2 separate regions of the Homo sapiens genome follow, and region 2 is linked to region 1. Evidence: fine-mapped expression QTL. A gene starts in region 1. The other region holds a variant in brackets. All regions are shown on one strand. Distances are between the middles of the regions.

What was found. PIP is the estimated chance that this variant, and not a neighbour inherited with it, causes the effect.
Region 2: its variant is the best candidate, but not a certain one, in a credible set for the expression of MUSK in tibial artery (GTEx, PIP 0.62).

The regions. Positions count from the first base shown.
Region 1 is chr9:110,666,976-110,671,378 of GRCh38, forward strand. It overlaps MUSK (muscle associated receptor tyrosine kinase), which reads left to right and starts at 1,816. Exons shown (of 15, transcript NM_005592.4): 1 at 1,816-2,008. The coding sequence starts at 1,930.
Region 2 is chr9:110,909,793-110,914,195 of GRCh38, forward strand. The region is part of intron 5 of LPAR1 (lysophosphatidic acid receptor 1); the gene reads right to left. Among named protein-coding and RNA genes, the nearest start is that of LPAR1, 130 kb to the right of the region's middle. The variant G/A (reference allele first, on the strand shown) is at 2,333.

The DNA of each region.
Region 1 (4,403 bases):
TACTATTGGAAGTTCTGGCCAGGGCAATCAGGCAAGAGAAAGAAATAAAGCGTATTCAAATAGGAAGAGAGAAAGTCAAATTGTCTCTGTTTGCAGATGACATGATTGTATATTTAGAAAACCCCATCATCTCAGCCCCAAATCTCCTTAAGCTGATAAGCAACTTCAGCAAAGTCCCAGGATACAAAATCAATGTGCAAAGATCACAAGATTCCTATATACCAATAACAGACAAACAGAGAGCCAAATCATGAGTGAACTCCCATTCACAATTGCTACAAAGAGAATAAAATACCTAGGAATCCAACTTACAAGGGATATGAAGGACCTCTTCAAGGAGAACTACAAACCACTGCTCAAGGGAATAAAAGAGGACACAAATAAATGGAAAAACATTCCATGCTCATGATAGGAAGAATCAATATTGTGAAAATGGCTGTACTGCCCAAGGTAATTTATAGATTCAATGCTATCCCCATCAAGCTACCATTGACTTTCTTCACAGAATTAGAAAAAACTACTTTAAATTTCATATGGAACCAAAAAAGAGCCCATATAGCCAAGGCAATCCTAAGCAAAAAGAACAAAGCTGGCGGCATCACACTACCTGACTCTAAAGTTCTATAAATGAACTCACGAGGCCAAAGAATGAAGAAGACACCAACACAAAGGGGAAAAAATCAAAACAATATGGTCATTGCAATGGTAGAGATATGCACAGTATATTATGGAAACCCAGAGAAGACAAACGTAACACAGCTTTGGGAAGATATGGAATTTTTCTCCCAGGAGGAGAGGATGATCAAGCTGAGAGATGTGTGAACTGAGTGGAAAGGAGGGGAGTAGTATTCCAAGAGAAGCAAACAGTATGAGCAATTCATGGAGGTAGGAAAGCTGTATACAGGGAACCATCAGCAGGTTGTTGAATAAAGGAAGCTGAATGAGGCTGGGCACAGTAGCTCACGCCTGCATTCCCAGCACTTTGAGAGGCCGAGGTGGAATCATCATTTGAGGCCAGCAGTTTGAGACCAGCCTGGGTAACATAGCCTGACCACATCTCTCCAAAAAATAAAAATAAATTAGCCTGCTGTAGTGGCAGTGCCTGTAGTCCTAGCTACTCTGAAAGGATCACTTGAGTCCAGGAGGCTGAGGTTGCAGTGAGCTATGATTACCCCATTGCACTCCAGCCTGGGCAACAGAGCAAGACCCTGACTCTGAAAAAAAAAAAAAACAAAAAACAAAAACAGGATCGTAAAAGACAATACTAACATACAACAAAGCATGCAGATTCCAGTAAAGCCTGTCATATTAGGCAGATTAGGCAGGTTTAAATATATTTTTATGTGATGATGAGCCCCTAAAGGCTTTTGAGCAGGAGGGACTATCTGAAAAAAGATATAGAATGGTTAAGACCCAAGACAGAGAGAAGGTACAAGGACTATTTGGTTGATAAAATCTGTAGGAATTGGAATGGGCTGAATGTGGGAGTGGGGGTGGGGTGAGAGATGGGGAGGACTGAAGACTGAATAGACCCAGATTTCTGGTTTGAGTCCGGGAGAGGTGGGGTGCTGAATTCGAAGGTCAGGACACCTATACCTCTGGGAATACAGCGATGGTTGCAAAAGGCATCTGGTATTGTCCTTCTGCCACTGTCTTAAAAGGGATTCTAAAGGGATTTTCTTGCCCTTGTTCCTCCAGCCCTACACTTGCATTACTGGCCTACGTGGATGCTCACCAGCTGGCTGTGTCCATCATTGCAGCCAAGTCTGAGAATTCCTGATTATACTTAGAGCCTGTGGAGCTGCTGACACAAACAGTCATTAGCAGACAACCCTTTTGCAACAAAGTATGCTTTAAAATGTAAACTGTGGAGCCATTTTCCTTGCGTTGTCCAGAAGGAACTTCGTCCTGCGTGAGCCTGGATTAATCATGAGAGAGCTCGTCAACATTCCACTGGTACATATTCTTACTCTGGTTGCCTTCAGCGGAACTGAGAAACTTCCAAAAGGTTGGTTTGAGCAATCGTGTCTTCTTGTTGTCTTGTCATGGTTGTAAAGTGTGTGTATATGAGATATGACCAAGACTGATTTATAGTATGGTGGGCTTGGGTTTTACTTGAAGAAGTAAGGGTGAAATGTATGATGAGGGAGGAAATTATATACATAAGCAATTGGTTGATGGTCTCTCTACCAATATTTTACTCCGAAGTTCTGCAATAAAAGGCTTAGCCACATAGTGCATGCAGAGCTCTGACTTCTAGGGCAAAACATAAGCATGTACACTGCAAGTTATCAAGGTCTATTTTGTTTATGCGAATGTCAAATTTCAGGGTGGTCTAAGTGGATGATGACAACCTTTTCGCATCAGGTTTGCCAGGAATAGAATCAACCCCATTCTCAGACATCCAGAGCATTTGCTTCTGAATAAAAATCACTTTTATTTTCAGTTTTAGCTTTGCCAAACTCTTAATAAATATTTTAGTTGCTAAAAATTGGAAATACAGAAAGACGTACACAATTTGCCTGTGTAACAAACCCGGAAGACAATGGATTTTAAATAACTTTGAGGCTGGAGTCATGATTTGGCTTGGCAAGAGACTGCAAAAGTTTTTTTCAGAGCCTTTGGAATGTACCGGAAATAACACCACCTCAGGGGAAAGGAAAGCAACTTAAGAAACTGACAAACACCTGTTGCAGTAGCAAGAATGTCCAGTGATATAGTTTCTGGCCAGTGTATTATGAAACTGGGACTAGCGTATTTGAAATCAGAAAGACTGGAAAGTCTGTGATTTGCAAAGTGACTAAGGGTATCACTGAAATCTTTTTTTAAAAAGACATGAGAAAGCAGATCGAGTGGTATCAATACAAGAGTTTTCAAATTTAATGTTATACCATAGAGTAAAAAGAGATTTTTGCTTCAGGACATGTTCAAATTAATCATTTTCCCTTTATATTAATCAAAGCACTGAAACAGTTTGTATTGTGTAGATAAATGAAGGTGGTATCTGTATATAGATGCAAAATGTATCTTTAGATTTTCTGGTTCACTAAAAATTCTGGAGCCATAAGGTCAAAGTTCACATGCAAATAAGATGCGGGTTTCTTCACAAACAATCTGATTTCACAGATTTTTTTGTTTCATTTTGTTGCTTCTCTTTTTCCATTTTACTTGAGTATAATGGTATCTTCAAATGTATTTAAACATTTAATTTCTAATGAATACTTTAAGGCATCTACAGATAAAAGAGACTCTAGATCTTTTCAAACAGCTAATAATAGTCAGAAAGACTTAACATTGGCTTCAGATTATTTTAATACTTCCTGATCAAACAACGGATGTCCGGTAAGGCCCCACCTGGATGTTTGAACGTATGGGTTGTCTTAAGTATTATTTGTATATTTCTAAACCACGCAGTTACATAAAAATGATAGGGTTAAATACTAAAATACAGTCTTATAAAGAGCAGGACAATTGATTTTGATGATTCAAATAAGGATTTGTTGTACACACACACAAAACCCCCAAAATCTCTCTATCTGAATAAGTCTTAATTTATATTCTAGAAAGAATTGATTTTCATTTCCAAACTTTACAAATAAAGCCCTTAATTCAAATGCACACTATCTCTATTTTGAAAATATTGAAATATAGTGGCATAGAGATAACAAAGCCAAACACCCTGACTTTTAAATAAACTAACCAGATCATTCACCCAATTTCATTTCTTATAATTTATTTACTACTAGAATTAGGTTTTAAAATCAAAAAATTTAAGCAATTTTTTCTCAGTCTATTGTACTGTAAAATCTAAATTAGTATGAGTTTAACATCACTCTTAGCCAAAATACCATGTCTAGGAGAACAAACATTTATTTACTACATACAGCAGTTCTGAGAATAACTAATATCATGAAAGCATAATCCTTAAAATTTTAAATGTTGAAGGGTGAGGAATACATTGGTAGAAAAGAACCACAATAAAATTTTATTATTTTCATTATTATTATTATTATTTGAGACAGAGTCTCGTTCTGTTGCCAGGCTGCAGTGCAGTGGTGTGATCTCAGCTCACTGCAACCTCCTCCTCCCAGGTTCAAGCTATACTCCTGCCTCAGACTCGCAAATACCTGGGACTACAGGTGCAAGCCACCACACTCGGCTAATTTTTATATTTTTAGTAGAGACAGGGTTTCACCATGTTGGCCAAGATGGTCTCCATCTCTTGACCTCGTGATCTGCCTGCCTCGGCCTCCCAAAGTGCTGGGATTACAGGCATGAGCCACTGCGCCAGCCATTATACTACTGAAACTAATAAAAATGGCCCACCCAAACTATTTCTACTATTTCTAGAAAACTACTGTTTTCCCTATTCTTGGCAGACGGTAATAACAAAAAGAGTTTTT
Region 2 (4,403 bases), 240 kb after region 1:
TAGAGTGCAGTGGTGTGATCTCGGCTCACTATGACCTCTGTTTCCTGGGCTCAAAAGTGATCCTCCCACCTCAGCCTCCCGAGTAGCTGGGACTACAGGTGCCTGCCACCATGCTCGGCTAATTTTTTGCATTTTTTGGAGAGACAGGGTTTCATCATATTGCCCAGGCTGGTCTCAAACTCCTAAGCTCAAGCTATCCACCTGCCTCGGCTTCCCAAAGTGCTAGGATTATAGGCATGAGCCACCACATCTGGCCCAAATGTTATTTTTAGAGCAGGTTAGTTTCACAACATAACTGACCAATAAGTGCAGAGAGAAAATTCCACCTAAGACTTTCATAGCTGGAGAGGAAAAGTGAATGCCTGGCTTCTAAGCTTCAAAGGGTAGGCTGACTCTCTTGTTAGGGGATAAAGCGGCTGGTGTGTCTTTAAGCAGAAGCCAGTGCTCATTTACCATTCCAAAAATCCTACAGCCCTTAAGAATTATACTAGATCTACTCTGCCTGTAGTCTATAAATGGAACAACAAAGCTTGGATAACACATCTGTTTATATCATGGCTTACTGAATATTTTAAGCCCATTGTTGAGACCTGCTAAGAAACAAAGATTCCTTTCAAAATATTACTGCTCATTGACAATGTACCTAGTCGCCTAAGAGCTCTGATGGACATGTACAGGGATATTAATGTTGTGTTCATGACTGCTAACCCAATATCCATTCTGCAGCCCATGGATCAAGGAGTAATTTTGACTTTCAAGTCTTATTTAATAAGTATATTTTGTAAAGCTAGAGCTGCCATAGATAGTGATTTCTCTGATGGATCTTGGCAAAGTTAGTTGAAAACTTTCTGGAAAGAATTCACCATTCTAGATGCCATTAAGAACATCCATGATTCATAGTAGGAGGCCAAAATATCAACATTAATAGGAGTTTATAAGAAGTTCATTCCAACCCTCATGGATGACTTTGAAGGGTTCAAGACTTCAGTGGAGGAAGTTGCTGCAGATTTGGGAGAAAGAGCAAGAGAAAGAGTCAGAAGTGGCACCTGAAGATGTAGCTAAATTGCTACAATCTCATGATAAAACTTTAATGGATGAAGAGTTGCTTCTTATGGAGGAGCAAAGAAAGTGGTCTCTGGAGATAGAATATATTCTGGTTGTCAGTGTTGAAATGACAACAAAGGATTGAAAATATTCCATCAACTTAGTTGATAAAGCAGCATTAGGGTTTGAGAGGATTGACTCAGATTTTGAAAGAAGTTTTACTGTAGGTAAAATGCTATCAAACAGTATCACATGCTACTGAAAAATCTTTTGTGAAAGGAAGAATCGATCAACGTGGCAAACTTCATTACTGTCTCATTTTAAGAAATTGCCACAGCCACCCCAATCTTCAGCAACCACCACTGTCATCAGCCAGCAACCATCAACATCAAGGCCAGACCTTCCACCAGCAAAAAGATCATGACCTGTGCAGGGCATGGTGGTGCACGCCTATAATCCCAGCACTTTGAGAGACCAAGGCAGGTGGATTGCTTGAGCCCAGGAGTTTGAGACAAGCCTGGGCAACATAGCGAGATGTCATTTCTACCCAAAATACAAAAGCCAGGCATGGTGGTTCACACCTGTGGCCCAGCTACTTGGGAGGCTGAGGTGGGAGGATTGCTTCAGCCTGGGAAGTAGAGGCTACAATGCACCAAGACTGTGCCACTGCACTCCAGCCTGGGTGACAGAGGAAGATCCTATCTAAAAAAATAGTGGAGGATTTGAAAAAAAAATTAAGAAGCAGACTTAAGATACTTTAATTTTTTTAATTTAAGAAAAAATATTTTCAAAAGATTATGACTTAAGGCTCAGATGACTGTTAGCATTTTTAAAGAAATAAGCTGTTTTTAAATTAAGGTATGCACATACTTTTTTAAGACATACTACTATTGCACATTTAATAGACTATATTACAAACATAACTATCATATGAACCAGGAAACCAAAAAATTTGTGTGACTCACTTTATTGCAATATTTGCTCTATTGCAGTGGTCTGGAACCAAATCTGCAATATCTCCAAGGTATGCCTGTATCTTTCCCATATGCCTATTTCCCAACTGAGATCAGAATTAACACTTATAATACAGAAAAGGGCTGGGTGATTGTTTTAACGGCCAGCCGGAAAGCAGAAAGGCTAGGGAGACAGTATCTCAGTCTAAAGAAAACCTAAAAGGCAGAAACCCTTGGGTGATAGGAAGTGAAGGTAGGTAGATAGAAGAATAAACGTCTGGGTTACTGAGGGCTGTGGGAGGGAGAAAGGAAAGCACAGTATCAATGCAGAAACA[G/A]TGTGACTACATCACAGTTTTTAAATACTTAATAATAGAAAATGGAAAGAAAAACAACTTCTTTCTAAGCACATCCTACTTTTGACCACCCATGTGGCCAGATCTCTTTGCTGTGACCCTCTCCATCATCGAGGTGACTAGAAGTACTTCACATTACAGAATTGTGCAACTTGTGAGCTTGAACATTGCCAGGAATCTCCACCTCTCAAAGACAATTCTGATTTCTTTACAAATGCAAATATTTGATCCCTGACCCAGAGATAGAATACAAAACTTTAAAACTCTTATCTTCTCATGACAGTTTTAAAAAAAGAATTAGTAGGGGGCAAAGACCTTTTGGCTGACTACAGAGTTTTCTCATTTTTTTCTTCTAAAAGCAAAGAGAGAAGAGGAAACACCAAATGAGCTTCTCCTTTCACAATAAAACCCGTTTTCAGACATTCGTCATTCTGGGAACATTGAGATTTTATTAATGGAGATAGTGTTTGGATATTCAGGCTTTCATCAACTATAGAAGCTGGCATGGTCTAAATTTGAACAAACTATTGAAATATAGCCATAAATTTCTTGCTGGAGACAGCGTCTCCATATTACAGTTTTTTTCATGACGCAAACAGTGTCCAAGGAGAAGGGCTAGAGATTCCATTCTAAATGCCACCAGGACATTCTGTTCTTCCTTCTTCACCCTCCAGATGAGAAGGGTTCCTTTCAGTTCAAAGGATGCTAATCTTGCCTCTCTTGGGACTGTCCCAAATAATAAACAGGCTGACCTTAGCTAAACAGAGCAACTGGTCAAACCTGGGAAGATCAGATTTTCAGCCTCAGAAAGCACTGTCATACGAACAAGGTTGGGAGGTTAACAGCATTAAGCCAGTTACTCTTTAGCACATCCTATGAAGTGGTGTCATGTGTGCTATTTGTGCTATTTCCCAGAGGAGGAACTTAAACTTGAAAGTAATTGACTTGTCAAGCTCCATTCAAACTGAAGTCTGTATTCAAATCCAGATCTTCCAGTATATTCCCTGACCTAGAAAACCATCTGGGATATAATAGATACCATCTATCTAGGAATCTAGCTATGTATCTACGTAGATACCTCTTGTTTACATAACTGAGGCGTTGAGCTGTCTGACTCCAAAAGTGTTTTTCTGCCAGACCATGCTGCATAGAAAGTACAGACTTTTAGAGCATCTGTTAGATTAAATACAGGTTTCCAACAGGTAGTATTTACCACTACTACAAGTCAGCCAAATCAGAAAGGTTCATTATCCTAAAAGAAATTAAAATCAGTGCCAACCTGTCATAATATACATACACACAATTTGTTTCTAAAAGTCTCTAAATGAAAGTTTTGCAAAAGTATTGATGAAAGGTATTTATATATATATGTATATGTACACACACATGTGTATCAAGTTCATTTTAATAAGTATATATATATATATCCATTTTTAGCTTTAGATATTACAAAACTATGTAATAATCAGAGTAGACCAGCAGATAAGCCTAATTAAGTATGCCCACAAACAAAAAGCACATTCTGAATGGAACAAACCAAGTGAAGTGGAGTTATGGAAAATAAGACTAAAGGACAGGCTGCAATGTGATTTTGGAAGGACGAGAACATTAGGGTAAGAGATTTCTGCTTTCCTTCTTAGGCAGTGGGGATCCATTTAAATTGTTGAGTAGGAAGATCAAAGTGGCTATTTTGTAGAATGTAGATGAAAGGTTACATGCTCAAAGAGGAGAGAACATCTAAGAAGTTCAATGGGTGCCTGCTATATTTTTCCACAAGAAAGCTGGCTATTACCAGACTGTATGAACAAGACACGTCCAAGCTTGACAAGCATCACTGACTTATTTTTGGCAGGCGATTTGGGACAAAAAGAAGTTCCCTCATTGCTTTTTTCCTTTGGTTCCTGTCCTCAAAGGATGACAGCATCTCAAAAGGCAACTCTTCCCAGGAGAAAGCAAGCTCCACACCCAAGAACTTACAAACTCCTTTGCCTGATTCTAATCCTGTTTCCCTTTGTCTTATGTAGCTGTCTCCCTAACTTTTAAACCATTTTAT